4 linked regions of the Homo sapiens genome follow. The protein of the gene in region 2 interacts with the protein of the main gene of each other region in a pairwise test. Each region holds a gene or a part of one and is shown on either strand. Other genes may lie near its edges.

Region 1 (7,752 bases), on a different chromosome or scaffold from region 2:
TCTGGTTGAGTTAATGTGCTTAAGAAGCACATGCATAACTTTATATCACACATTTAAAATATTTCTCTACTTAAAAAAAAAAAAAATCCCCAAAAAGCGCTGATACTTTGTGCCTCCCAAATTGACTTATAGCCTCTTTTCGAAAGCCTCACTTCTACAGGGAAGGGTAATAACACATCCATTATTCCAGGTCATCCCTGAACCCAATAAAAAGAACTACAATTACTACGGTTATGCTCATTTACCCTGCCAACAAGACCATCAATTTGTCCCAATTTTGGCAGTCAGAGCCTTCATAAAATACATTAATGTCTTTGCTTATTACTCAAGATGGAAAATTAGAAAAAGATCACATAGTATTTTATTTCATCAGTGAAAACAAAGTACTATGAGGTTTAAAAACTAAGCAATCTTGAAAACATACGTATGTTCTAATAATCTCCAGTGATCTCCCCTACCCACCCTCATCCTTTTCTGAGGCAGCCAGTCACTTGCCAACCAGCAATGGACATGCTCTCCCCCCACCACATCCTACCATATCATGTCCTCCCAAGTACAGTAACTTTGATGTAGCTCCCTCTTCCATTTAATCTTTTACCACTCACATCTAAGCTTATTCAACAACAGAGCATTTCTAACATTTAAATATATCATCTCTTAATATCTCCTTCTTATTTCCCAGTGTTTGTTTTTGTTTGTTTGTTGTGCTTTTTGAGATGGAGATTCACTCTTGTTGCCCAGGCTGGAGTGCAGTGGTGTGATCTCCGCTCACAGCAACCTCCAACTCCCAGGTTCAAGCAATTCACCTGCCTCAGCCTCCCAAGTAGCTGGGATTACAGGGACACACCACGCCTGGCTATATTTTACCTAAATAAAACATCTCTTGGTTTCTTCCATAAACAGAAGTACTTACTAAGGCTCTAGGCTTCTGTGCCCCCAATTTTAGAGGCCCAAAGTGGTTTGAATACCAGGTATTAATTACAAAGAAAAAGGGTACACCTGTATGAAGGAAAAGACCACCAAATGGTTTTAGGGCATAATTAAACAAAGAATCAGTACTTGCAACCTTTAAAGTTACAAATCTGTCAAGATGTATTTTAAACTCTACTGCCAGGGGTGCACTAATTAAACCTATTTTACCTTAATCACCACTCAATATAAAACAGCATTTCTTTTCTCATGTCATTGTTTGCTTTTTTTGTACACAAATACTGCAACATTGGTTTGTATGACCTCTCATTGCACAATGTCTCATTTTAATTCTATAGCATTTCAGCTGCACTGTAGGTTAAACTGGCTCTTTGGGCTAATCCAAACTGTAATTATAAACTTCTATATTGCATAACTCGAATTGCCTGAAAGACTTACAAATAATTCCATAGCTATATCCCTAGCTTTTAACTTAAAAGGTTCAAGAAAATACTACACCTTGGTTTTTAAAACACCTGAAAACACTTTAAGGTCAAAGACTGTTTTCGTGAAGCGAGCGAGCATGGCACATGCAGCACAGGCAGAATTCACAATCGCAACCAGTGCTGAATCCCTGGCTAGTTGGTTTCATTTTGTTAGACTTTTGAGCAAGACTTTAAGACAGTGAGTCTATTCTGTAACATAAATACCACACTGTGTCTTGTTTTCCAACAGGGGAAGGCAATTTTTTTAATTTCATAAATTTGTATTTAGCTAAAAGAGGTTGAATACCAAATTCCATCTCCCCCAAGTCATCTCCTCGCAAGTAGAGTAACCTTGATGTAGTTCCTCCCCCATTTCATCTGTCTTTCACCGCTCACATCTAAGCTAATTCAACAATGGGGAGTATTTCTCGAGTTTGGACTTAGAAATAAGACTATATGAAAGTCTACTTATAAGACTTGCAAAATGGTCTTTATAAAATATCTGTTAAGTCTATAAGGCTATTTGACTAAGACGTGAAAATAGACTCGAAGTATTTGTTGTAAACTACAGCATTATAACTTTTTTAGGTAACTAAAATTTTAAGTCAATAAAAGGCAAACGTTAAGCAAACCGCTTGACGTAACTAAGCATCGCAAAACTGTGATCCAATAATCTAGGGTCAATATTAAAAATCAAAAGTTTCTAGACCGAGCCTGAAGAAGTCTTAATTCTAGACAATGGCAAGGAAGGTGAGGGGCAGAAAAAAACCCAGAAACACTCCCAAAGCTCTGGAGTTACATTTTCAAGTCAGCAAAATGAGAGTTGGATTCAGAACTCTTGTGTAGGCATAATCTGTGAGATGTTTATAGTTTCAATGTACCATCAAAGTTAATGGATTAAAACTTTTTCAACTTGGAGGGGAGGAGTAGTTGACCTTCTCACATTTGTAAATTACCTCCCCTTTGGGGCTCAAGATTTTCTGCTGAGACTCTGAGCAAAAGCTGCTTGTGACGTTTGCCCGGGGAAGGTCTCGGAGGCGGGAAAAGGCTAGGTAGCGAAAGAATCCCTGGGGGTTCTGGGATGGGGCGAGAGGCGTGAGTTCCCAGTTGGGAAGGAGGAGGCGGCGACTTGGGGACTCGGTAACCTGTCCGGGCAGTGAGGCGAGCACGGGGAGGGGAGGCGAGAAAAGGGGAGGGTGGAGCAAAAGCTCGTGGGTGTAGGCCTTGGGCCGGGGAGAGGGAGGAAGCGCGGAGGGAGGCGAAGACGCTTGGGGCCGGGCACTCACCCGCCGGGCGCTCGGGCTGAATGGGCCGCCACCGCAGTGCTCGCTCGCTCAGCACCACGTCACAACTGTCCCTCCCGATCTCGAAGATGCCCCGGAGCAGAATCCGCTCGGCCGCCGCCTCCGTCTGCTGCGGGGACGTTAACAGCGCCGGAGGCACAGCGGCAGCCTCCGGGGGCGCCTCTTCCTCCCGGCCGCCCTCCAGGGCACTCACCCGGTTCCTGCGCCTCCTCCAGGGCATGGCGGAGTCGCAGGCTGGGCCCGAGCCAGGGGTCCGGGGAGGCCTTTGGAGAAGGAGGTGGAGGGCGCGGCAGCCCCAGCTCTAGCCGCGTCCAGCGCTGCCACAGCAACGGCGCGCAGGGCAGGGACCCAGGAGGGAGGCGGGGCCGCGCCTGACCCAGTCCAGCACCCTGGCCTGCCAGCCTCGCCGCTTCGCCACTCACCACAAAAAGACCCAGCTGCAAGAGGAAGAATAAGTGGCTCCCTCCGCCTAGCTTCTCCTGTAAAGTACGATTTCGTACTTTTCGTTACCCTCGAGTTAAACCAGCCCTCCTCAATCTTAAACTTGCATATAATCGCTTGGGCATCTTGTTCAAATGGAGATTCTTATTGCATAGGTGTGGGACTGGCCCCCAGATACCACATATCTAAGAAAATACTAGGTGATGGATCCCACTGGCCAAGGAACACACTTAGAGTTGCAAGGGTGGAAGCCTCTGTTTTTCCACCTCCTTTCCAGAGGGTTCCCTGGAGAGCACAGGTGACGCTTTACAACCCTGTTTCAGAGTAGTAGCGCACTTCCCAAAACCCCTGAGGGGAAGCTAGAGATAAGGCCCTGGTTTGCATAGACAAATTTGCATCTGACAAATTCAGTATTAAAGGTAAGTGCCTCCAGGTGTAAGTATTTAGGGTCCTACTTTCCCCCAAGGTAGCGCCTCTGCAGTCTTGTCTTTGCCTGGATCTTGCACTCCCTTGAGGGAGATTACAAGCAGCAGGGCTTCACTTTCACGCACTGCCATAAAGAAGTGTCACCTGGAAAAGGAGAAGAGCCCTGGGGGGGTTCACCCTTTTCTCCTGATAACTGAGATTTCTAAAATCAGCTGCTCATTAATTTTGATAACACAGAGAGTCTGGAGGCTAGTGATTCTCAATTGTGGTTGCACATTAAAGTTACATAGGGAACTTTTGAAAACCCAAATGTCCAGGCCACGCTCAAGACAACTAAGCTGGAATCTCTGGAGGCGAGACCCAGACTTCCGGATTTTTAAAAGTTCCCAGGTAATTCCAATGTTCAGCCAAGGCTGATAATGGCTGCTCTAAGCAGGGTGATAAAACAGGGAGCTGAGTACTTGTAATGGGGAAGCAGTCAGGAAGAAAGTGAGTCCCTGGGAAGAGGAGCAGAGTGGGAAGTAAAGCAGAAGGCTTTTTTTTTTTTTAAACAAGATCATTATCATCATATTGAAAAGAAGGAGTAGGGGAGTTGAAAAGGAAATTAAATTCATAGGGTTGTAGATCTAGTTCCAGTGTTCTAGTGCCTAAACAGTTCTATCATAGAGGCAGCAAATTCTTAATTCTGTCCTCATTCCTGGTCACACTGCAGAGTCACAGAAAGAGCTAACTATAGCAGGAGTTTCTCAAGGTTCTTAGCTCAGACGGTTTGTAGGCCTAACCAAATCCCTACCAAACATAAAGCACTGTGCACCAGTTAAGCTAGGACTCTTACTGTTTAATGCTCCGACAATAAGTACCCAAGCTTCGAGGAAAAGCAAGGAAGAGCTTCAGTTTGATCTGACTGCAGTGAGCTATTTCTTAGAGCAGAAGTGCAGCTGCTGCTAAACCCCATGCAGGCTTCAGGTGGCTCTGTTCAGCAGTCATTAGAGGGAAAAGGACGGTGCCCTTCGCAGAATGAGTTGCAGTTCTGGAGTCAGCATCTTGTATTCACAGCTGTTAGGCAATCAACACAATTAGAGCTCACTGGCATTTTAAAAGCTCACCCAGAGCCAGTGCAAACAGGCCAAGCCAATGGCTACTCCTTAGGAGCTTTGCAAAGGGGCAAGTTGCCATTTTTCAAGCTTCACTCAAGCCAGGAAGTCAAAAACACTGGCTTTGAATTGTCCTGAAGATGGAAGTAATAAGGATTGTGTTTCCTTCTTTCTTTCTTTTTCCTTTGATAAGCTGCCTTCTTCCAGGGCTGGAGTGCCCTAGGGCTCTCTTTAGGATCTATCCACACACTGTCCCGTGCTTTATGTACCATCCAGGGTTCTGCAAATGATGTCACCAGCTCCAACCACTCTCCTGAACTTTAGGTATTATGTCCAGCTCCCTACCTGACATCTCTACTTGGCTGTCCAATAAGCTTCTAAAACATATCTAAAACCAGACTCATGATTTTCCATCACAAACCTGTCCCTCTCAGAATGTTTCAAATCTGTAGTATCAAAATCCTTGATATCATCCATGTCTCCTTTGTCTCATGCCTTCAATCCAATCTACCAGCAAATCCTGTCCATTCTGTCTAGAACATATAGTCCTTTCTGCCTGCTGTCATTGCAGTCTGCACTTCTGCACCCCTCAGCTGGACAACTTCAGTCTCCGCTCTCCCAACCCAGCTCTCTGCTTTCGGTTTCCCCTGTGCTGGCACCTCCAGCCCAGAGCCAATTTTCCATTTTGGAGTTACATTGTGCCTTTAAAAAATAACGAGAGCATATAACCCTGCTCACAGCCTTCCATTGACTTCCCATTATTCTTGGAATAAAGTCAAAATGCTTAGCAAGGCGAGAGGTCCTTTATAATCTGGACCCTGGCTATGTCTCCGAGATCACCTACTAACTTTTTCCCCTTGCTCATTCACACAAAGCCTTCTTGCCAGTCCTCAAACACATTGAGAAGAATAATCCCTTCTCAGAGCATTCGCTTTTGCTGTTCCCTCTGACTGGAATGCTTTTCTCCCCACCAGATGGTTCATTCTTTCACTTTGCTCATTTTTCTGTTTAAAGGCCACCACCTCAAAGAGGCCATTCCTGAGCACCCTCCATAATTCACCATCCTGTAAACCTGTGTATTCATTTCTTACTGCTGCTGTATCTAATTACCACAAATTTAGTGACTTGAAACAAAACCAATGCATTGTTTTACATTTCTGGAGGTCAGAAATCCAAAATCAGTTTCACAGGACTAAAATCAAGGTGCCAGCAGGCCTATATATTCCTTCTGTAGGCTCTAGAGGAAAATATATCTCCTCTTTTCTGGCTTCTAGAGCAGCAGTCCCCAACCTTTTTGGCACCAGGGACTGGTTTTGTGGAAGACAGTTTTTCCACGGATGGGGGCAGTTTGAAGGGGTGAGCATTTTGGAGGCATTAGATTCTCATAAGGAGCACAAACTAGATCCCTTGCATGTGCAGTTCACAGTAGGATTCAGGCTGCTATGAGAATCTGATGCTGCCACTGACCTGACAGGAGACAGGGCTCAGGTGGTAAAACTTGCTTGTCCACCAGTCACCACTCACCGCCTGCTGGGCAGCCTGGTTCCAAACAGGCCACAGACAGGTACTGGTCCATGGCCCAGAGACTGGGGACCCCTTTTCTAAAGGTCACCTGTGGATTTTGTTTTGTTCTGTTTTGTTTGTTTTGGCTCATGTTCACTTTTTCCAACTTCAAAGCCAGCAGTCTAACATCTCTCCTCTTTGCTTCTATCCTTAAATCGTCTCTTTTCCTCTGTCTTTGACCTTTGTCCCCCGTCTTAGATAAGGACTCTTATGATTACATTGGGCCTGCCCAGATAACCCTTAATTATGTTTTCAAAGCCTCTTTTGCTATGTAAGGTAACATATTCACAGGTTCTGGGGATTGAAACATGGACATCTTCACGCTGCCATTAATCTCTCTACCATAACCTGCTTTAGTATTCTTTACAGCACTTACTATTAATTCTTATTACATACTTCTTTGTTTATTGTCTAGCTTCCCCACTAAGTTAGTGTACTTAGTAACAATACTGAAATACAGAGAACACTCAGTAAATTTTAAGTTTGTTAGAATATAAGCCCCCTGATGGCAGAGAATTTATCTTGTTCACCATTAAATCCCCAGTATCTATCACAGTTCTTAGTACACAGTAAGTGCTCAATTAATATCTGAAAGAATGAACTTCTTCAACATTTATCTATAACAATAATACCAAGATACCCCAATTATTTCACGTTAGTTCCTGAAGATCAATTGTCTCATTAGTGATTCATGTGTATATATATATATGTTTATATATATGTGTGTGTGTGTGTGTGTGTATATATATATATATATATATGTAAAATACTAATGCATGAAAATTGCTTTCAAAAAACTTTCAGGAAGCTTCCTGAACATAGCTTTCCCTCCTTTGGCTGAAGCTTGGGTATTTGTTTCCAGAGCATTAAACAGTACAGGTCCTAGTTTAAAAGGCACTTTGTTGCTTTATGTTTGGAAGGGATTTGACTAGATCTGGAAACACAGTCTCCATCCCTGGTTCTTAAAAATCCAAGTCTGAGTAGAAGACTGTAAAATATATCCTGCTATTGTTAACATTGCTTTCAGGAGGCCTTTAAGTATGCTCTGAAAACAAATACCCAAACTTCCAGAAGAAGGGCAGCAAATCCCCAAGTAATAGGCCAATGAGACAGACTCTGGAAGTCTGGGCCACCTTCTCAGTGCCACAGATAGAGGGAGAAAAATTCACAGCCGACAGAGACATTCAGACCCACTGCAATGAGGGCAACAGACAAGGAAGTCTAATTCCAGTCAGGACCAACTGCCATGGATCTGAATTTTAGCCAGTGGGTAATCCTGTGGTAGTCCCTTTGATCTCCCTGAGTCTCTGCTGAAGTTTGGAGTTTATGTGACAAGTGATTGAGGGCTTATGCTATCATCAACATAGTTCTTTCTCAAACTCCAGTTTATAGAATTTTTTTTTTATTAAGAACTTCTCACTGCAGGTAGAATAAAATCCAAACTTCTATTATGACATATGAGACACCATGTTGTCCAATTCCTGCCCACCTGCTCAAACCCTCTTTTCTATCAGTTTTCTCCTATTATTA
Region 2 (6,993 bases):
ACATATGCCACTTCTTGGTTAAAAATTACAAATATGCACGCACAGTTAAACCAAAATCAGCTGTACATTCTATTAGCTATTAGAGTAAACAAATGGCCTAGATGTAATCTGAACAAACTAAAAGACTATAGGTATTTAGTGACTGCTCAGCAATATTTACCACATGACAAAATGATGTTGCTATAGATTTCTTTCAAAAACAAATGAGGTATTAGAGAATTTTCAAAGGTTTAACAAGACCCAGCTTGAAGTGACAGAAAAAACCTTCATAATGTGTTTTTATAATGTCCTTCACATCAGACTACCAAGGGTCCTGTGCTTGTTCAAACCTGTAGTCTCAACCACCCTTTGTCTCCCATGAAATCTCCATCCTCCTTCCTCTCAAGAGTTTCCCTACACATCCCAATCCCAAAAGAAAAATCAATAGCTTACAAGAACACAAGAACAGCTTTTCTAAAGAACCATCACCAACTTAGAATTTGTTAAATAAAACAGAACCGAGAAAGAAATCCAGCCTTAGAACACTGAAACATCTAAGTGCCTGACACATAACAGGCATTTATTTGGCAACGGTATGTTGACTAGACACACAATATTGATAAAAAAAAATTTTTAAATGTAGTAACTGGACAGTACATGTGATAATATAATCTGCCCAACTGGCTTTACTGATTTGGAAGCTGAAACTCAAAAGGTTAAAGGACTTGTCCATGGACACAGATATTTTGGAGCACAGCCATGACTAAACAATCCTTGTCTCCTACTGCACTGTTCCCTTCAACAGGTCATATACCTCAGCCCCTCATGTAAAAAGATACAATATGTACACAAAATACATAAAAAGATACAAGCCAAATAAAAAGCAATTTGATGACTATTATTTCTCAAATATAATTGAGGTAGTTAACTTCAAACATTATCAGTCTTAATACACCTTTCCCATAATATAATTACTTCACCGATCTAAAAATGTTTTATGATATCAAATTAAAATGTCTTAGGCAACTGCCATGTGCAGGAAGTTCATTATAGTTTCAATAATGTGGTACTGCTGTAAACTTCCAGGTTAAAAGTAATCATCCTTACATGACTGAAAGTTTAATCAGATACATATAAGTTACACATAACAAGAACAAAACTATAACACTAGGAAATGTTACTTTGTGCTTCAAATTATTTATTGGTAAAGAAAGCATTAAGTCAGTAAAAGCAGCATCTAAGAATAGAGAATCTCCTTATTTTCAATTTTCTCATTTGTAAAATAAGGAGTTACAGAAATACAATCTTTGGAAAAGGCCCAATATGTAGCAAGATAAAAGTATAAAAGTAAAGTGTTTCAAAGAGAGTTGGGGACCAAGCTATGCTAAATTCCCAAGTGCTCTGGAACCCTAAGTCTCAGCAGAGTAGTGTTTCAACAAATCCCTCCACTTTTCGGAGCGCAACACATGTAAAGTGGTTGTGTTTAAAACCCCAACGTGCAAGTTTGAAAAGACTGTTTTACAAAACAATTGTTAAAATGTCTAATTTCTCTCAATAATGTCAAAATCATTTCCTTTGAGAAAATGATACCTATCTCTCATACTCTTCCAACCACTTCTTAAAACACATTCAGCTCATTATTCCAATGAGCAGGAAACTTGCGGGGAGGTGGGGCTAGCACACAGATCCCATGGCTTGGACAACTGAAGCATGACTTTTGTGGATTTGTACCATGTGGTGTTTCAGGAGAGAAGAAAAATACCTCAGGTGATGAAATTTTCAAAACGTATCTAAAACTGCAGTTGGTAGAAGGCTCTCCACAGCCAGCTGTCTTTCAAGAAAAGGCTCCAAGTTTATTTAAAATCTACAAGCAGAACAGAACCATACCTCAACCAAGCTCTAACATCAAGAAGTTTTACCCGATTTACGTAGTTAAAAGGATAAGAAATCGGAATTTACTTCAATGGATTTGTTCGATGCCTTAATAATGAATGAACTAGAGGCATCACTCACTGACTTGAGTTCTGAAGGAGTCTCTCAGCCCTGCCCCCTGTAAAACCTTAAGCAATTTCTACAGAATTAGGTTTTTCGAGGCTAAGCCCGGTTCAAAGGAAGTCTCCCCGCCTCCCTCCCAGGGGCTGAAGCCCAGGACAGCCGGGGCGGCGCGCCCGAGCGGGTGGGGGCGCGGGGACGCCCCCTCCCCGCTCGGGAAAAGTTCTGCAGGCCGCTCTCCGGCCAGGCCGGCCTGCGGCCGTCGCCTGCTTCGCCGCCACAAACACCCATCTCGGCCGCGGACGGCCAGAGGGTCGCGCCCCCTCCCCGCGCCACCGCAACTAACACCCCGCCCCCGCCTCCCCGCCACCGCCCTCGCCGAGCGTTAACCCCTCGCCGTCCGCCGCCCGGCTCGGGGGAGGAGGCCGGCCAGGGGGTGGAGTTGTCGCGTCTCCTCCCGGGAGCGCCCGGGCAGACGCCCGGCTTGTTTACAGGCCCCAGGCCTGCCCGCCGCCGCCGCCGCGCAGGCCCGCACCGCCCGCCAGCCCGCCGTCGGCCCGAGCGCCGCACTTACCCGGAGCAGCCGCAGGCGGGCAGGTCCCTGGTCGGCCGAGGCGGCGGCGGCGGCAGCCGGGGAGGGGGTCACCGCGGCGGCGACGGCGGCAGCCGGGGGAGGGGTCACCGCTGCAGCGGCGGGCCAGGTCAGGCTGGGGAAGGGGCGGAGGAGGGGAGGAGCCGGGCTGCGTCCGGGCCCCCGGCTGTCGGCGCCCTCGCGGCTCAGATCATCCGGGCGTTGGAGAGGGAGGCAGAGAGCGGGTCCCGGAGAAGGAGGAGGAAGAGCCGAGGACTCATCGCTTTCGCGCCTCAGCTGTCTAGAGTCCCCCCACCCCCCCCTCCCCAACCACCCGTTCCGGAGCAACAGCCGCCTGAGGACCCGAAGCTGCGGGCCGGACGAGCGCCGAGACCACTGCTCTCTAGCTCCCGCGCGCGCTCCCGTCCCTAGCGCCGCCACCGCCGCCGCCGCCGCCTCTAGCGCGGCCCCGCGCAGGCGCGCTCACGACCGCGTCGCCCCTCCCCCACCCCTCCGCTCGCCCCGCCCCGCTGGCTCCGCCGCCGCTACAGCTGCGGCGCGGCGCGCAGCTACAGAGACCCGGATGTCGTTGGGCAGGAACTGCGGTGAGGGCTGGCGGGCGGGGGAGGGGCCGCCACAGATGACGTCACTGCCTTACCCAGCTTCTTTCTCTGCCGCTGCTGCTGCCGCCGCCTTTGCCTTACGGCCTGGAGCACCAGGCCGAAGCCGAAGGGAGCGTCCGGATCCCGGATAGCAGCCAGGACCCGGGCCTTCACGTTCCGGCGCCAGGGACTGGACAGAATGTGCGGCTATTAGGTGCCCAGTAGATCGACAGCCCCTCCGTGCCGGCCCTTGGCCAAGTAGGGACTCGGAAGCTACCCCTACGGCGTCCGCGCCCGGAGCCCTGGCTCTTCTACCTGCCTGCAGATACAAACCCCACTCCCTGCGAAGATGGTGTACACGCAGCCCCGAGCACAGACCCGAAGCTGTCCACCCTTCTTGGGCGCCGTCGCGGTCTGGCCGCTGCCCTTCGAACCCATGGTGGGTCCCAGGCAGCTGCCAGACCCCCCTACCCCAGAGTCCCACTCCTCCAGAGCCTTCCTCTCCCAGTGACCCCAGGAAGCCCAAGCAGGTGCCACGGCCACACACCTCGCGACCCAAAGGGCAGAGACACAAGCACGCTACCACCGCCCACCAATGTGCGAGTGCAACTGATTCACGCACGGGGCACATGCTCTGAGTTTCTGGCAGGTTTTCCCTCTATAGTTCAGGGGATTCCACATTGTATTTATTTGCACATGTTAGATAATCACGTGGTTCTGTCCCAGGGGACCTCCAACGACCTCCAATGAGGTAGGTTAAGGGAACAGGATTTTTCAAAATCAGGAGAATAATCAGAAACATAACAGCTGCTTCTATTAAGAGGTAGAGATGAGCTAAAGTTAATAGAAACTGCACGTGCCAGCGGCCAAAATCCAGTTTAGCTAGCTGGAAAACCCGACCCACGCTGCTTGCAGACGCCGGGGATAGAATGACAAACCCTAGGCAGCCAATGAATCGCAGCCTAGGAGCAGTACATCACCAGCACGGGTTCCCATTGGCTGGGGTGCCCTTCCCTCTCTTGTCAGCGGCTTAACCAGTTCACGAATTTGACCTACACCACATTCGCAGGAAAAGAAGTTAGAAGAAAAGTCCGTATTTTTAAAAGATGTTCTGATGCACACACAAACCAAAGACTTCATTGTAGAAGGCAGGTTCTTTTACTGGCCAAATTGAGTTCTGGCCAGTAAAAAAGGTAAATTTATGTTGAAGGCCTCTCTATTTTACTTGAGGAGCTCACTATAGCAATTTGCACCCTACTACTTTCTATCTCCTAAACCATTTTGTTGCCCCAACTCTTAGATCAAAAGCAACCTATTTATTCTTTCTGGCATTCAGCAAATATTTAGCTGCTGCTTTTAAAGTTGTAAAAAGCCATCTCTAATTTTCTCAACATGACTTTGGGGAAGGTTCTGTTTCCTTCACTTTTTTTTTTTTTTTTTTTTTTTTTTTTGAGACAGAGTCTCGCTCTTTCATCCAGGCTAGTACAGTGGCACAATCTCGGCTCACTGCAAGCTCCGCCTCCCGGGTTCATGCCATTCTCCTGCCTCAGCCTCCCGAGTAGCTGGGACTACAGGCGCCTGCCACCACGCCTGGCTAATTTTTTTGTATTTTTAGTTCAGACAGGGTTTCACCGTGTTGGCCAGGATGGTCTCGGTTTCCTGACCTCGTGATCCACCCTCCTCGGCCTCCCAAAGTGCTGGGATTACAGTCGTGAGCCACTGTTCCCGGCCAGAATTCCTTAGAAGATGATCGTGGATCATTTCCACATATACAAAATAAAAATAAAATTCACTATGCATTTGGTCTCAGTATCATCTGAGGATACATTTCCTAATTCTCCACATATCTCCCCGACCCCCCAAAAAAAGAAATTAGATCAGAGATCTTTGAAACGCTACCTTCTTGGAATCCTTAATACTCCAGGCAAGTAACAGCATGAGTAGCATGCTGGTGGACTCATTAACATTCTGAACTACAAAAGCTCATATGGCAACCATTTAGAGTGCTCTTAAAAGACAAATTTTCTTATTTATAAGCAGAAGCTGGGTCACTAGTGACGGTAGTGGACCATAGAAAACTTGAAATGCCTGCCTATCTTTCTGCTTCCTTCCTTTAGGCTTCCACACCTTTCTTCTCTCTGTTCTGCACTTGGAGAATCTGGGTCAATTGTAGAAGAAGAGGGAGAGAAATAGAAAATATGAACAGAAAGAAATTTTTAAGGAGTCTACGCATTGTACAGACTGCCGATAAAGCAGCACCTTCCTACTATTTATTTCTGAATACAGCTTGCAGGGACATTTTGGTATGAACTAGGAAACTCATGGGTTATAAGATTAATATTTTAAAAAGATATCAATATTGTCTGATTAAATATGTTTAATATCATCATATCCCCTTTTATTAAACCTTATGCTAAGAAGGGGGGACAGATAGAAGGGGAAAATAACATTGAAAAAAGAGGATTGAAAGTTCTCTTCTGAACTGTAAGACTTTGCCGGGCCTCTACACATATTTGGGATGTTCACAGTAAGATTTTAGTGGGAATATATTGCCATGATGATGACATTTTAGTAATTTTTATAGGTATATTATAAAACTATCCTGCTCTGCTTTGGAAATCTGTTTATATTTCAATTAACAAAGAAAAAGATTATCTACAAGATTGGCTTTAAAGTCCTGAATTTAGTGTGTGTTGATAGCCTAGTAATTGGGAGGCTTGGGGTGAGGACAGGGGCTGTAGTGTGGAGTCTAAAGCTTAATCTGATCAGCAATACTCTCTTTCCCTTTCCACCACAATTGTGACTTAAAAAAAGGTTTACATTCCTGCTCCCAAATTACTCTCCAGGAGAGTCACCCTTGAGGCAGACTTGCCTGGGCCTCTCAAAATATATGCAGTAATGTAAATGACCCCCTCAGGAGGCTAGTATTTGAGAATACCCCTCACCATCCTTTTCCACTGAAGCCAGTCACTACTCAAGAGTTAGAAAGCCAACCAGAACATAGGTTCAACAATTCCTTCCTCCCTCACTACCTGTTTCATATTTTTTTCTCTCACACATCCTCTTCATTTGGTTTCCTCTTTTCTCATTTCTCCTTCTCTCTCCTCCCTTTTTCTTCTCTTCTCTTTTTGCCTTCTTTGCCCTTCTCTTCCCCATTCTTCTTTTCTCTCTTTTCATTAGCTTAGTACAAATTGTAGCTTCTGCTACCCATTTTCTCCCAGAACAGAACATGCGAGCAGACAGTGCCCCTAAATGAATTTCATTCAGGGAGAGGGTGTGCCCCCTACCCTGGCCCTCCTTCCTCCCTCCCCTACATCATAATACATTATGAGAAACTTAGCTGCTTAGAGGACTGTTACAGAATCAAAAGGATTAGAGAATCCTGTCCTGTGTGACATCACTGGGCAGCCCCATTAGGGAGGGGCAGAGGGGAGCAGCCAGCAGTCTTATGCTACCACTGTGGCTCATCCTGCGACCTGAGAGAAACCTGGGCAACTGTGAGCACCAGAGGCCAAGTCCTGGACAGTCTTTAGGGTAGGCTTTCACCTCAAGATAGCCATATATGGCCACAGCCTTACAATACTAGAGTGGATCTTGTCAGATAAGTTCATCTGTTCATGAGATAGCTATTGTGCACCAAGCACTGTGTGGGACACTGGAGGTAGATAATGACATCAATGGGCAAGCCCTGCCCACAAAGAGCCAACATAATAATAAGAGGCATAGACAAATAAGTCAGCAGATAGAAAGGAAATTGCATACTGTTATCCATGCTGTGAAGAAAATAAATAAGGAAACAGATCCGGGAGACGACTTGAAACAGGTGTTCAGTGCAGACCTCTCTAAGAA
Region 3 (7,085 bases), on a different chromosome or scaffold from region 2:
GTGCAGTGGCATGATCATGGCTCACTGCAGCCTTAACCTCCAGGGCTCAAGTGATCCTCCCACTTCAGCCTCCAGAGTAGTTAGGACTATAGGCATGTGCCACCACACTCAGCTAATTTTTGTGTTTTTTGTAGAGATGGTATGTTGCCCAGACTGGTCTCGAACTCCTGAGCTCAAGCAATCTGCCCATCTCAGCCTTCCAAAGTTCTAGGATTACAGGCGTGAACCACCGCGCACAGCCCTGTCCAGGTATTTAACACCTCTTTCCCCCTTGACCCTGGGAGTTCCTAGAGGGCAATGACAGTTTGTGATAAATTTTCATTGTCACTTTCACATGGGGGTGCAATTCCAGATGGAGGGATGGTTGCGATGATTCCTGATGTTCAGTTTTTGATATCTGCAGATTCCTCTTCTAAGTCATAGGTACTCATGCCTTACGGAAAAAGACAAGGTACAGCCCATTACTGATTTTGCCCTTCTTTTCCAAATTACTTAGCCAACTGTCCGGAAAGGGACAGAAAGGCCTCATGGGGCTGCAGGAGAGTCTGAAGGGGAGGTCTGGGCCACCATCAGGTGGATTTAGCCGGGCCTTGGCTCCAGGCTTCAGGCAGTGCCTCTTCCCCTGCCCAGTGAAGTCAGTAAGTACAAGGGAAGCCCTAAAATGTAAGTATTGATAGCTCCAGTTTACAGATGGGAAACTAACGTCCGGAAAAGTAAAGGCAATTGCCCAATGTCCCAAAGGTCCACCAGTGAGTTTGAGGCAGGGCAGGGGGAGCCATGGAAAATACCTTGGCCTCAGAGACAGGGTCTCCAACAGGTGCCTGGAAGCCCATGGTGTCCACATCTTCCTGACAATCATGTCAGCAGGACAACAATGACACTTATCCCCCAAGTCACAGAGAGGTACAGAGAGACCCAAGAGAGGCTGAGTCACTCCGATCACAAGGCAGCCTAGGAAGGACAATGGAGTGGAGAATGGCTCCGACTCCCTGCTATGCCCTGCAGGAAGAAAAGCCTGACCTCATGGGTCAAGAGGGTCTTAATTTCAGGGCAGATGGATGTGGCTGGGGAAGGAGTCACATACCTTCCTACTGAGGACAGAGGCCTAGGTCACAGTGCTGGCCAGCCAGCTGCAATGGGGACTAGCCATCAAGGTTCATGCAGACACAGCATGATCTTCTGCCGTCCCCCCCAAAGCCTGGGCCTCCAGCACAGAGCAGGGCTCCCCTCCCTGGCCCATGAGGGGCCTGGCAGTGCCCTAGGGCCATCCACAGAGACATGACCAAGTGGACTCCAGCCTCCGCCCTGCCTCTGGCCCCTTTTGACCTTAGGCAAATCACATGGCCTCTAGCCCTCTGGTTCCTCTGCTAGAAAACAGGAAGAGGAAAATTAACCTCCTGGAAGAGCTGTCAGGAGGATGGCTGGAAAGTAGTTTCTAAACATTAAGAGCCTGAGTTGCCTCTGAGCCTGTTTCCTCCTCTAGAAAATGGAAATAATCTCTGCAAGCCCTTTCTCACACTGTGGAGAGAGAGTCTTAGATGGCAGTGGGTGAGAAATAGCTTTGTCAGTGGCCCTGAAAGGTGGTGCCCACCGGGGTGGTGTCTCTCTAGTCTGTTAGCTCCTTCAGGGGAGGAGTGGGCCTTGCGCATCTTTGATCCCCCACACTACGCCTAGTATACAGCAAGAGCTTAATAATAAATGGAAACGAGGAGAGGGGAGGGGAGGAAAGGAAGGAGGCAGAAGTCGGACACAAGAATAGAAGAGAAAGACAGAAAACAATGAGAAAGAGGGGGAGCCCAGGGAGAGGCTGCTGTGCCCACTTAGGGGGTGGGGAGGGCAACGGGGAAAATAGGGTGGCAACGCTGAGCCCCTGACCAGCGCTGGTCCTGTCTGAAGGGCTGCCCCCAGGGGCTGTCCTGCTCCAGCCCCCTCCTCCTTTTGTCCCAGTTTCCCCTTTCAGAGGCAGAGACTGTTTCTGAGTATTTCAGGACAGGTTCTAGGAGAACGGGAGGGGTTCTCCCAGCCCTAGGTTCAAAACAGCCCCTGGCCAGCCACTCCTCAGGAGGTCAGAGGGAAAGGGAACAGAGTAGATGGATGGGATCTATTTGGATGAAATGCGATCTGTTTTCCCCAGGCTGGGGGTGGCGGGGGGCGCTCTACCCTGTGTGATGTGTGTGTTTCCACTTCTGGCCATGTGGGGCCTGAAGCGTGTGTGTCAGCGGGCCTTGGGCTAGCAGCTCGTGCCTGTGGGGTGCCAGTCTTTGAGGGCATCAGTCTGATTGTGTCTGTGGGGGTCAGTGTTGGTGTGGCCTTGCGCTCCGCTGTGTTGGTGAGACATGCCAGCACAAGTGTGTGTGCCAGTGAGGGTGATGTGTGTGCCAGCAAGAGTGTTTGCTACAGCGAGTGCAGGTGACAGTGTGCGTATCAGTGTATGCCCACACGTGTGTGCCAGCACGAGGGTGTGCTAGAATTGGTGTGTGTTGGATTGTGAGCTGTGCATGCCAACAAGGCTGTCAGCAAGAATGTGTTGACCGAGGCGTGTATGACGGCGTGCCACTGCGTGTGATGAGCGTGTGCTAGCGGTTGCCAGTGTGTGCGCCAGCATGCCTGTGCCACGGGTTAGTGTGCCCGTGCGTGTATTGTGTGTCAACCTGCCCCCGTGCGTCTCTGCGGCTGCCGGCCAATGCTGGGTGTCAGCGAGCTGTGTGTCCGGGCCAGGAGCTGCGGCCCACATGGGGCGGCCCGGCCCTCGCCCTTTGGGTCCCCCCGCCCACGGCCCTGCCGGGGAGACCACACAGGAGACCTCGGGTGGAGGAGAGCTGGTACTAGATCCCGCGGTGGCCGCGAACGCAGAACCAGGACGCAATCGGAGCCCCCGCCCGTGTCCTCGCCGAGGTCGCCCCCACGCGCCCCCCGCCGGGCGGCCGCCCTGCACTCACCGGGTCCCTTTGTCGCCCATGGTCCGCGACGGTCGCAGGGAGGTCCGCGGCGTCAGCGCCCAGGCTGGAAAATCCCCAGCCAGCAGGAGGAGCGCGGGCCAGCCCGCTCCCGGCTCCCTGCTCCGCCTCCTCCGCTCTCCCGGCCGCCGCCGCCGCCCCCGCCCCCGGTCCCCGCCCGCCGCCCGCCGCGTCGAGCAGCGCAGCGCCCGGGCCGCGGCCAGGGGCGTGGAACCGCGCGGGGTGTGTGCGTGTGTGTATGTGTGTGTGTGTGCGCGTCTGCGTGTGCGCGCGCCGCCCAGCGAGGCAGGGCAGCGCGGCGGGACGCGTCAGGGCCCCAAGGTCGGCGTTTGTGGTGGGGGAGGGGGTCCACCCGCGTGCGAGTCCGTGTGAGAGTGTGTGTGTGTGTGTGTGGTGGTGGTGGTGGTGGTGTGGTGTATGTGAGGGCGCACGGCTGTGTGCGGGCCCTATTAGGGAGTGTATTGGTGTGGATGGAGGAGTGTGCACGTCTTTGTGCAGTTGTGCGTGTGTGCGCACGGCCGTGGGTGCGAGCGCGCTCTCCCGCGCATGCCGGGGCAGCCTTTGTGTGTGCGGGTGGTTGGAAGCCGAGGGTCTGGCGACCCCGAGGCCGCGCTCCCTGCGGCCCCTCGCTTAGCTGGAGACCCCGGGATGCCTGGCAAGGCCTTCGCCCTGTGCTCCACCCTTCCCCATTCCACCCACCCCACCCCCTTCTACTGGAGAGATAACACCCAGCCACACAACAGGGACAGGAAGAAGGGGCGGAGGGGGCAGTAGACGGCCTTGACACTGGGGAACTGAGCGGAGACCCGCGGCCAGCAGGGGCTGCAGGAGGCCGCCCAGGAAGAGGAAGCTGTGAGAAGTGAGAAGAGGCGATAAAGGAAGAGGGCAGAGCTGGCCCGCTGCTGTGACCGGGTAGCACCGTGGAAAGCGCCCATGCCCAGCTCCATGGCTCGCTGTGGGTGACCCTGTGCACTAAGCTTCTGAGAACCCATGTCCGGACCTGTAAAGTGAGGATACACTAATATCAGCCTGCAGAATTGTTAATAGGTTGAAAGAACTCGCTTGTGTTTGCTGGCCTCCCCTGAGCGCCTGCATACAGTAGGTGCCCAGTAGATGTTAGCCCACTTCTCTGCAGGCTTCTTGATGTCCTGTGAAATCTTGGCTGGGACCCTGCTTTGTCTGAGGTGCCTTCCTGCTTTGCAGGTAGTGGGAAACGGTAAGGTCTTTACCACACCCTCACTACTGAGATTTGGCTAATTATCCCGGATAGGTCCCTGATATCTAAGTATTAAGGGGAAAGTAAGCTATCATTTACTCTGATGCTGTTGTGAGTATGTAAACATCTCCTGTAATTATGCTCAGAAGCAGTTACCTATACTGTTTATATGCAGTATAATTACTATAATTATGTCCAGATTTGGCAGAGGGGCAGGGGGAGGCTGATGGGTAGGCAGGGTGGCCCACCTCTGGGCAATGTTAGGAGCTAGAGAGTATGGATGAAAGCCCAGAACCCTCCTCCCAGTCTTGGCCTCTGGGTTTCACCCTCTACAGAGGAAGAAGAGGAAGCCACCTGTTGTTTCTGCAGGGCTCAGAGATCTGGAAAGGAGCAGACTAGAATCTTCTTTGATGACAGGAGATCCCTAACCAGGATGGTGAAGCCAGGTCCTGCCACTCTCCACATCAGTTTCCCCACCTGTAAAACAGGTTTGACCAAACCATAAGATCTCCAATGGATCTCTCCATGCTGATGCCCAAAACATCTAAATATATTTATTTATTTTATTTATTTTTGAGACGAAGTCTTGCTCTGCCACCCAGGCTGGAGTACAATGGAATGATCTTGGCTCACTGCAACCTCTGCCTCCTGGGTTCAAGAAATTCTGCCACCTCAGCCTCCCCAGTAGCTGGAATTACAGCCACTGCCATCATGCCCAGCTAATTTTTGTATTTTTGTAGAGATAGGGATTCACCATGTTGGCCAGGCTGGTCTCGAACTCCTGACCTTAGGTGATCCACCCACCTTGGCCTCCCAAAGTGCTGGGATTACAGGCGTGAGCCACTGCTCCCGGTCGATTTAATTTACTTTAAATTCCAGTGAGGGAGCAACGATGGCAGAAGAAGAGTCAAGAGGACAATTTTGCTTTACCTGCCAGGCTCTATGAAAAACATATATATATATATATATATATATATATTTTTTTTTTTTTTTTTTTTTTTGAGACGGAGTCTTGCTCTGTCACCCAGGCTGGAGTGCAGTGGCGCAATCTCGGCTCACTGCAAGCTCTGCCTCCTGGGTTCGGGCCGTTCTCCTGCCTCAGCCTCCCGAGTAGCTGGGACTACAGGCGCCCACCACCACGCCCAGCTAATTTTTGAAAAACATATTTATGTATTAATAAAATGGCCGGGCATAGTGGCTCATGCCTGTAATCCTAACACTTTGGGAGGCCAAGGCGGGTAGATCACTTGAGGTCAGGCGTTCAAGACCAGCCTGGCTAACATGGTGAAACCCTGTCTCTCCTAAAAATACAAAAAAAAAAAAAAAAAAAAAATTAGCCAGGCATGGTGGCGGGCGCCTGTAGTCCTGGCAACTTGGGAGACTGAGGCAGGAGAATCACTTGAACCTGGGAAGTGGAGATTGCAGTGAGCCGAGATCACGCCACTGCACTCCAGCCTGGGTGACAGAGCCAGACTCCATCTCAAAAAAAAAAAAAATTAATAAAATGTAAAAGTGATAATGTTGAGGAGAACTCTTTGTATATCCACAATATAATCTCAGCCAGTAATAAGTTTTATGAAGAAAATAAAGCAATAATGAAACAGGGTGATAGGGACAAGTAGACTTAGAAAAAGGCCCTAGGCCCTCCGAGGAGGTGGGCTTTGGGCTGAAACCTGCGGAAAAGAATCAGCGATGTGAGGGGACAGTCAGGGAAGATGCTGCCCAGGCAGAAGGAGCAGCAACTGTAGAGGCGCAGGAGCAAGGACAGTGCTCCTGGTGTTGGTGAACAGGCAAGGGGTGGTACAGGTGAGGCAGCAGGGTTGGGGTCACACAGAACTTGTAGTTGAGGATGAGGAGTTTGGGGAGCCAGTGGGAGGTTTAAGCAGCTGAGCACCAGTATCTGCTTTACATTTTTAAAGGTCACTCTAACTGTTGGATAGAGATGACTTGGTACTGGACAACAGCAGAGGCAAGGCACCCCATTATTGCAGTCGTCAGGGTGGGGTTTTGGGCAAGACAGGTGGCCACAGAAATGAAGGAAGTAATGGGGTTCAGGATATATTTGGGAAGCAGATTTTTTTTTTTTTTTGAGACAGAGTCTTACTCTGTTGCCCAGGCTGGAGTGCGGTGGCACGATCTCAGCTCACTGCAAACTCTGCCTTCCAGGTTCAGGCGATTCTAGTGCCTCAGCTTCCTAAGGTAGCTGTGACTACAGGCGCATGCCATCCTGCCCAGCTAATTTTGTATTTTTAGTAGAGACACGGGATTTCACCTCAAGTGATCCACCCGCCTCGGCCTCCCAGAGTGCTGGGATTACGGGCGTGAGCCACCACGCCTGGCCGGGTTCAGGATATATTTGAAAGGGGAGCTGCCAGCACCTACTGAGGGACTGGCTGTGAATAATGGAGGATCCAGGATGACTCAGAGGTTTGGGTCAGGGTCTGTCTGTGCCAACTCTCCATGTAATTCTCCAAGGGAAGTCACGGTCGAGAGGACTGGTGGCCTCCATTCTTCCCGTCAACCCATTTGTGTCACATCCTCCACCTGAGCAACAGAGTGATTTTTGCTCAAAGGCAAATGGCTTCTGCAGCTGAGGCTCATAGGAGATGGTCATCTCCAACTGTGTTCCAACTAGGGCGAGTCACATGCCTGAAATTTACCACTCACAATCATTTCTTATTAAAAAATGAGAAAGGGTGGTTCTGGGTGTGGTGGCTCATGCCTGTAATCCCAGCACTTTGGGAGGCTGAGGCAGGAGGATTGCTAGAGCCCAGGAGTTTGAGACCAGCCTGGGCAACATAGTGAGATCTCTACAAAAAATAAAAAAACAAAAAACTAGCTGGGTTTGGTGGTGTGTGCCTGTAGTCTTAACTACTCGGGAGACCAAGGAAGGAGGATACCTTTAGACCAAG
Region 4 (7,457 bases), on a different chromosome or scaffold from region 2:
CAGCCAACACAGAAAAACCCTGTCTCTACAAAAAATACAAAAATTAGCCAGGTGTGGTAGCACACACCTGTAGTTCCAGCTACCTGGGAGGCTGAGGTGGGAGGATCACTTGAGCCTGGGAGGCAAAGGCTGCAGTGAGTTAGGATCACACCACTGCACTCCAGCCTGGGTGACAGAGTAACACCCTGTCTCAAAAAAAAAAAAAAAAAAAAGAAGAAGAAGAAAGAAAAGAAAAGAGAAATGGCCTGAAATTGCCCACCAAGGTTTCTTCTGGATTGCAGCCCATCTTTCCTTCCACCTCTGTCATGCTGTGCCTCTGGCCTCCACCCTTTGTTGCTCATGGTGTCTGTGTCCCTGAGTGTCTGCCATCCTCTGTCCCCATCTGCCCCCAACCACCTTGGAGAGGAAGAAGCCGCACCTCCATCTTGGATGCTCCCCCAGCCTGAGATCCAGCAGTGGGTGTTTGGAGGGAGGTGGATAGAGGCATCAGGTAGGCAGATGGGCAGGACCCGCTCTGAGAACTGTATGGAGCGCTCGAGACGCACCAGGGCAATGTCTGCACAGGCACCTTCCTTCCAGGAATACACAGGGTGGGGCTCCACCCAGGCAACACCCACCTTCTGGGACCGAGAGCCAGGGTTCCCCAGCTGCCAGGCCCCCAGCAGCACAGAGAACAGGTATGGTTTGTTCAGGTTGCTGGAAGGAAAGGGAAGGGGAGGATCAGCCAGGCCTGGTCTGGGAGGAGGTACCTGGGGGAACAGCATGGGTGTGAAGGCCCCTGAAGGCAGGAGAGGCTTCTAGGTAGAATCGAGGGGCACCAAGATTGAACAGAGGCCCGGAAGCAGAGCCTGTAAAGGGAGCCCAGGGCCTGGGGCACAAAGCCCAGGGCCTTAGAAGATCAAGTGCCCCAGGCCGGCTGTACATACTCCTTGAAACAGTGGGCAGCAGTGATCACCCAGCGGCTGGTGAGCAGAGAACCTGCGCAGTGGTGGGTCCCATTCTTCTGGATGCTCACGATCCAGGGCCACTCGCTGTCAGTGCTGTCCTCGCCGCCCACAACCCGGTTCAGCTGCTGGGGCTTCCCACAGGCTGGGGGAACTGGAGGGTACGGTCAAGTTTTGTTATCTCCAACTTCCTACAACCCACCCCCGGAATCCCAATCCCTAGGCCTGCACCCCAAGCTTTGCCCACAGCCCAAGCTCCGTTCATGTCCCCAAGCTCTACCCACATCCCAAGTTTCACTTGCACTCCAAGCTCCACCCACACCCCAAGCTCCACCCACATCCTAAGCTCCACCCATACCCCAAGCTCCGCCCACCTCCCCGTCCCATCCCTCCCTCCATCCTCACTCTCTGCTGGTCCTCACCTGGCCCTGGCCTTTCCACTCACTCCTTGTCAGCTGCACCTGGTCTCTCCCTCCCCCTCTTTCCTTACCCTGCTTTCCACTCTGTTCACCTTCCTGGCTCTCTCTCTCCTCTGGCCCTGGCATCTCTCAAGCCTTTCTCCTTGCATCCGTGTCTCCTTCCTGCCTCCCTTCCCCTCTAGCTCTTTCCCCCTCTCACCCCAGCCCCTTTCTGACCTGTGCCCAGGGGACGGACACATAGACACTGCCTGCGCGTGGGCCTCCTCCCTTCTCCCTCCCGTCAGAGCTGCCAGCTCCACTCACCAGGTATCCTGGCCGCATTGAGGATGGCTGAGGGCAAGAGAAGGAAACGGTTAGGCCGGTGAGGGGCCCCAGGACACAGTGGTGAGGGGCCCTCAACGCCCAGTGAGGAAGGCCCCCAACACCCAGTAAGAAGGGATCCCAGTGCCCAGTGAGGTGGAGGTCCCAGCACCCAGTGAGGAGGGTCCCTCAGCGCCCAGTGAGGAGGGGTCCCAGCACCCCCTGAGGAGGGTCCCTCAGCGCCCAGTGAGGAGGGGTCCCAGTACCCAGTGAGGAGGGTCCCTCAGCGCCCAGCGAGAAGCCCCCAGCACCCAGTGAGAAGGGGTCCAGTGCCCAGTGGGAAGGGGTCCCAGCACCCAGTGAGGAGGGGTCCCCAGCGCCCAGTGAGGAGGGCTCCCCAGCGCCTAGTGAGGAGGGTTCCCCAGCGCCCAGTGAGGAGGGGTCCCCAGCGCCCAGTGAGGAGGGCTCCCCAGCGCCCAGTGAGGAGGGGTCCCCAGCGCCCAGTGACGAGGGGGTCCCAGCGCTCAGTGAGGAGGGGGTCCCAGCGCCCAGTGAGGAGGGGTCCCAGCGCCCAGTGAGCAGGCGTCCCAGCGCCCAGTGAGGAGGGGGTCCCCTTGAGTACCTGGTGGTGAGGAACCTCTAGCCCTCCAGTGCCCAGGGAGACTCTCAAGTCTCTCAACCCCAGGGCCCCTACCGGCGGGGCATTTCCTGGGGCCTGGCCAGGCCCTGGCTGCACAGCTGTGACCCTGCCCTCCCGCAGCTTCCCGTCCAGCCTGCCTTCCGGGGACCAGGACCGGCTCCTCGAGGGAGGCACAGACCTGAGCCCCTCGGCTCTGGACGCTGCTGCCGCTGGTGTGCCCTCCCCTGACCTCCTGCGGCAGGAACAACACAAAACGGTGCTTCCCCAGAGGCAAGCAGCGGAGGACGAGGAGATGGGAGAACACGGAGGCGAGAGGGAGCAGGCGATGGCGACGCCGACGGTAACTGGAGACCGAGGCGCGCTGCGTACTTGCTGCGTTTTCTGTTTCATCCTCACAGCCGTAGAAGAAACCGAGGCACAGAGCAGTTAAGGAGCAAGAGATAAACAGAGCAGAAGCGGAAAGGAGATGAGAGAGGCAAGGCCAGGAGGGAGAGAGGGAGGGAGGGAAGGAGGGAAGGAGGGTGGAGGTGAGAGGGAGGAGGGAGGAGCAGCCTCCGGACGTACCTGTCGACGCCAGCAGCAGCAGGGAGGTGAAGGTGCCGAGACAGCCCCCACCCAGGGCTGGGGGCGCTCCAGAAACCACCATGGCTGGTGGGGCGGGGGAGCAGGCAGCAGGCTCGAGAGACCCAGGGCGATGCGGGTCAGGGTGTGTAGGTTCCCTGCAGGTCGCCCCAGGTTTTATCCTGGGAGGCGGAATGCCGTCAGACCAGTCCCCAGGTGGCTCCCGCGGCCACCCCGGCTGTGGGTCCTGGGCAGAGGGCGGGGCTGCGGGGAGGAAGCCAGCCGCTACAGGGCTCTGGGGGGGCTCTAGCTGAGACCCCAGGATGTGGCCTCTGGAAGGGCAGGGGAGGGGGCTTGGGCCCAGAGGTCCCTGACATTAATTGTCCAGGGGCAGAGAAAGGTGCCAGGGCACTGAAAGGAAGGGGTTCCGGGCTGGGGAGGGCCTGGGTTTGGAGAGGCTGAAGTCTGGGGTACTGGGTGTTGGGGGTGGTCCTAGGGCCTTAGGGATCAAGGGGGTGCCCAAAGCTCAGTAACGGCTCCCACCTGCAGGGCCCCAGGCCCCTGTGACTCAGCCCAGAGACCTGGCGCAACCCGGGCTTGGGAATCCCGTTAACCCACTTCCCGAAAGCTGTGAATCAGGTGAGTGGCGACCTTGGTGGCCTCCTGGTGGCCGCCCTCCTGTCGTTCCTGGAGGCGGGGCTCTGCCCTGCGGTTCAGACACCTGACAACTCACCTCACCTGGACTCCTGGGAAGGGGAGGAGCCCATGGGCACCAGGGCTCGGCCAAGCAGGGGGGTTGAGAGAAGAGGGGCCCCGGGAAGGGCTGGGACTCCCAGGATTCAAAGAGCTGCTGGGCTGGGCTGTGGGGGGCCGGGTCCTGGGCTGGGAGTGGATTCTCGGTGCTTCCCCCCAGCGGCTGCCACAGTGGCAACCCGGGGCTGAATCCTGTGAGACCTTCCCTGACTCAGTGCCCTGCAGCGCCCCACACTTGGGACACTCCCACCCAAGCAGGGCAGGCTTCCTCCTCTACAAAGAGGCAGGAGCCTGCGCCCCTTCACTCATTCGATCAACAAGCCTCCAGCAGGGCCCTTGCTACCGCCGGGGGTGAATTAAAAACAACCATAGTGTCTGGGTGGGGTGGCTTATTCCTGTAATCCCAGCACTTTGGGAGGCCAAGACGGACAGATCATGAGGTCAGGAGTTCAATACCAGTCTGGCCAACATAGTAAAACCCCGTCTCTACTAAAAATACAAAAAAAAAAAAATTAGCCAGGCATGGTGGCAGGCGCCCTTAGTCCCATCTACTTGGGAGGCTGAGGCAGGAGAATCGCTTGAACCTGGGAGGCGGAGGTTGCAGTGAGCTGAGATCACGCCACTGCACTCCAGCCTGGGCGACAGAGCGAGACTCTGTTTCAAAAAAAAAAAAAAAAAACCATAGTAGTGAATATGTATGTAATAAATATATTTATACAAATATAAATATAGTATTTATATAATAGAGCAAACATTTAGGAGTGCCATGCATTGCCTCCTAATCCTCAAATGTCTTTATTATTCCCACTCTGCAGATAAGGAAACTGAGGCAGCTTAGGGCGGTTAAGTGACTTGCCCGAGATTGCTGGGTGAGTGGTGGAGCCGGACCTGCACCCCAACACTGGGGGTGGCTGCTGGGACTGCCCTCATGGAGGCTTCGGGAGCCTGGAGGAGGTGCCTCACCCTGCCTGGGGTGAGCCCTAACTTGCTCCCTGCAGAGTCAGGGTGGCGTGGGTCAGGGGCTTAGCAGACCACCATGGCTGCTTCAGGGACTCCATGGCTCTGAGCAGGACGGGTTTTGCCCTGGGGGTGGACTCTGTGCTGCCCACCTCCTCAGTCTGTTAAGGGTTAGGGTGGCAGCAGGACGACTGGCACTTTCTCGTGGCAGAGAGGCCATGCCCTGCTCCACCGAGAGACAAGTCAAACAGCAGGGCCCTGGGGAGCCCCAGAGGATGCATTATTCTCTGTCCCAGGACTCAGAGGGGGTTTGGGGGAACTGCAGGAAAAGGCCACGCAGAGTGGCCAAGGAGGGGCAGTGTCTCTGAGCAGCAGCAGCACTGCAGCAGAAATTTCTGCTGGGCTCCCCCAACCCTACTCACTGTCCCCCGCTCAGCTCTGCACCCAGGGCGTCCAGGGCCCTCCTGCGCCCCACCCCACTGCCTTCTGGAATAAGGTGGGTGGCCTCTCCAGCTCACCCAGCAAACATATATTGAGTACCTGCTGTATGTCAGGCCCTGGTGGGCACCAGGACACATGTGATGAATAAGACGCAGGTCCTGTGCTCAGGAAGCACATGACCTCCTAGGGGTGGGAGGCAGATGACGGATGACAGGGAGGTGTCCGGGAGGTGGGCACAGAACCATGGGACCAGGCGGTGGCTTGGACCCTAGAGGGCCACTGTGAAGCTGGGTGCTGGGGAAACAGTGTGGGCAGGGGGGCTCCCTGTGGACCCCCAGGATCATATTCAGTGCCTGCTGCACCCTGGGGCTCAGCGAGTGTTTGTTGAATGTATAAATGAGTGTGGAAGAAGCAAGTCTGCAAGTGGCTGGGGACCGACCACTCCAGCCTCCCTCTCTGCCTCCCGCCCAGGTTTCCTCTCCATTCCAGCTTTTCTGCCTTTCTGAAGAGCCAGCTCACTGCCCTGGATACCCAAGGGTAGCCATGGGCCCTGCCCAAGATGCCGCTATCCCTGAGACAGGGTGGCCAGGAAGAGAGCCCCGAGGAGAAGGACCTGGTAGGAGCAGGGGGAAGCCCTGAGGAGCTGGGTGAAGATTTCCTGGCACAAGTCCTGGGGAAGGGCCCCAGACAGCAGTTCCTCAATTCCCAGGGTATAGAGGGTGGAGTCTCTGAAAGGCCACGGGGTGGAGACCCTGGCATGATTCAACATTCACTCAACAAAATATTTATTGAGCGCCTGCCAATGCTAGACCCACATGCTGGCCAGCATCCCTGCCTGTGCAAGCTCTGGATGAGCTGTGTGCCCCTGCCACCCACACCCCCACTCCCTGCCAGCCTGGCCTCAGGGCCTCTGATCCATGTGCACTGGAGTGGTGATGACTGACAGGGCCACTGGGGCATTTCCATGTTAACAGCAGCTGCCACTGGCAAAAGAAGTGACTCGCCAATGGTGGCATCTCAGATGTGGGCCCAGGAGTCTGGGGAGCTACTTTGAACAGGGCTATCCATTCATTGTCCCACCAAAGGCTATGGAGCCCACCCACCATGTGCTGGAGTAGTCAAGGGAAATAAGACACTCTCCTTGTCCTTGTTAACTCAATCAACAAGCATTTGCAGAGCACCGCCTGTATGCCGGCGCTGTCCGAAGTGCTGAAGATACAGCAATGAGCAAACCAAAAGCCATGGACATCGGATGAAACAGAGAATTGTAAACAATAAGTACATCATTTAGCTCTATGGAAAACAGGATAGAGATTTCTCAAAGAACTAAAACTAGAACTACCATTCAACCAGCAATCCCACCACTGGGCATCCACCCAAAGGAAAAGAAGTCATTTAATCAAAGAGACACCTGCACTCGTGTGTTCATCGCAGCAACACTGTTCACAACAGCAAAGCCATGAAATCAACCTAAGTGTCCATCAACAGATGATGGATAAAGAAAATGTGGTGAATATATACACAGTGGGATACTACGAAGCCATAAAAAAGAACACAAAACCATGTCTTTTGCAGCAATGTGGATGGAACTGGAGGCCATTATCTTAAGCGGAACAAGTCAAACACAGAAAGACAAAGATTGCATGTTCTTATTTATTTATTTACTGAGATGGAGTCTCACTGTGTCACCAGGCTGGAGTGCAGCGGTGCAATCTTGGCTCACTGCAGCCTCCACCTCCCGAGTTCAAGCAATTCTCCTGCCTCAGCCTCCCAAGCAATTCTCCTGCCTCAGCCTCCCACATAGCTGGAACTACAGGCACGTGCCACCACACCCAGCTAATTTTTGTATTTTTAGTAGAGGCAGGGTTTCAGCATGTTTGTCAGGATGGTCTCAATCTTTTTACCTCATGATCTGCCAGACTTGGCCTCCCAAAAGGCTGGGATTACAGGCATGAGCCAGTGTGCCCAGCCTTTTTTTTTTTTTTTTTTTTTTTTTGAGGCAGAGTCTTGCTCTGTTGCCCAGGCTGGAGTGCAGTGGCGCAATCTGGGCTCACTGCAACCTCTGCCTCCCGGGTTCAAGTGATTCTCCTGCCTCTGCCTCCTGAGTAGCTGCAATTACATGTGCACACCACCATGCCCAGCTATTTTTTATATTTTTAGTAGAGACGGGGTTTCACCATATTGGTCAGGCTCGTCTCGAACTCCTGACCTCAGGTGATCTACCTGCCTTAGCCTCTTAAGCATGTTCTCATGTATAAGTGGGAGCAAAGCAGCCGGACGCAGTGGCTCACGCCTGTAATCCCAGCACTTTGGGAGGCCAAGGCGGGCAGATCACGAGGTCAGGAGGAGCTAGAGACCATCCTGGCTAACATGGTGAAACCCTGTCTCTACTAAAAATACAAAAAATTAGCCGGGTGTGGTGGCGGGCGCCTGTAGTCCCAG

What was found.
Region 1: the proteins of PPM1A (region 2) and CERKL interact in binary tests that used the Homo sapiens proteins (3 or more experiments, as listed by UniProt).
Region 3: the proteins of PPM1A (region 2) and ARRB1 interact in binary tests that used the Homo sapiens proteins (3 or more experiments, as listed by UniProt).
Region 4: the proteins of PPM1A (region 2) and PRSS22 interact in binary tests that used the Homo sapiens proteins (3 or more experiments, as listed by UniProt).

The regions. Positions count from the first base shown.
Region 1 is NC_000002.12:181,654,089-181,661,840, forward strand, and holds the start of CERKL (ceramide kinase-like protein), read right to left. Parts: upstream 3,018-7,752; 5' UTR 2,919-3,017; coding exon 2,681-2,918; intron 1-2,680. UniProt on the Homo sapiens protein: Has no detectable ceramide-kinase activity. Overexpression of CERKL protects cells from apoptosis in oxidative stress conditions.
Region 2 is NC_000014.9:60,245,230-60,252,222, reverse strand, and holds the start of PPM1A (protein phosphatase 1A), read right to left. Parts: upstream 3,003-6,993; 5' UTR 2,546-3,002; intron 2,062-2,545; exon of another isoform or gene 1,742-2,061; intron 1-1,741. UniProt on the Homo sapiens protein: Enzyme with a broad specificity. Negatively regulates TGF-beta signaling through dephosphorylating SMAD2 and SMAD3, resulting in their dissociation from SMAD4, nuclear export of the SMADs and termination of the TGF-beta-mediated signaling.
Region 3 is NC_000011.10:75,348,649-75,355,733, forward strand, and holds the start of ARRB1 (beta-arrestin-1), read right to left. Parts: upstream 3,014-7,085; 5' UTR 2,960-3,013; coding exon 2,940-2,959; intron 1-2,939. UniProt on the Homo sapiens protein: Functions in regulating agonist-mediated G-protein coupled receptor (GPCR) signaling by mediating both receptor desensitization and resensitization processes.
Region 4 is NC_000016.10:2,855,156-2,862,612, forward strand, and holds the start of PRSS22 (brain-specific serine protease 4 precursor), read right to left. Parts: upstream 3,016-7,457; 5' UTR 2,950-3,015; coding exon 2,868-2,949; intron 1,694-2,867; coding exon 1,667-1,693; exon of another isoform or gene 1,580-1,666; intron 1,099-1,579; coding exon 927-1,098; exon of another isoform or gene 765-926; coding exon of another isoform or gene 697-764; coding exon 419-696; intron 1-418. UniProt on the Homo sapiens protein: Preferentially cleaves the synthetic substrate H-D-Leu-Thr-Arg-pNA compared to tosyl-Gly-Pro-Arg-pNA.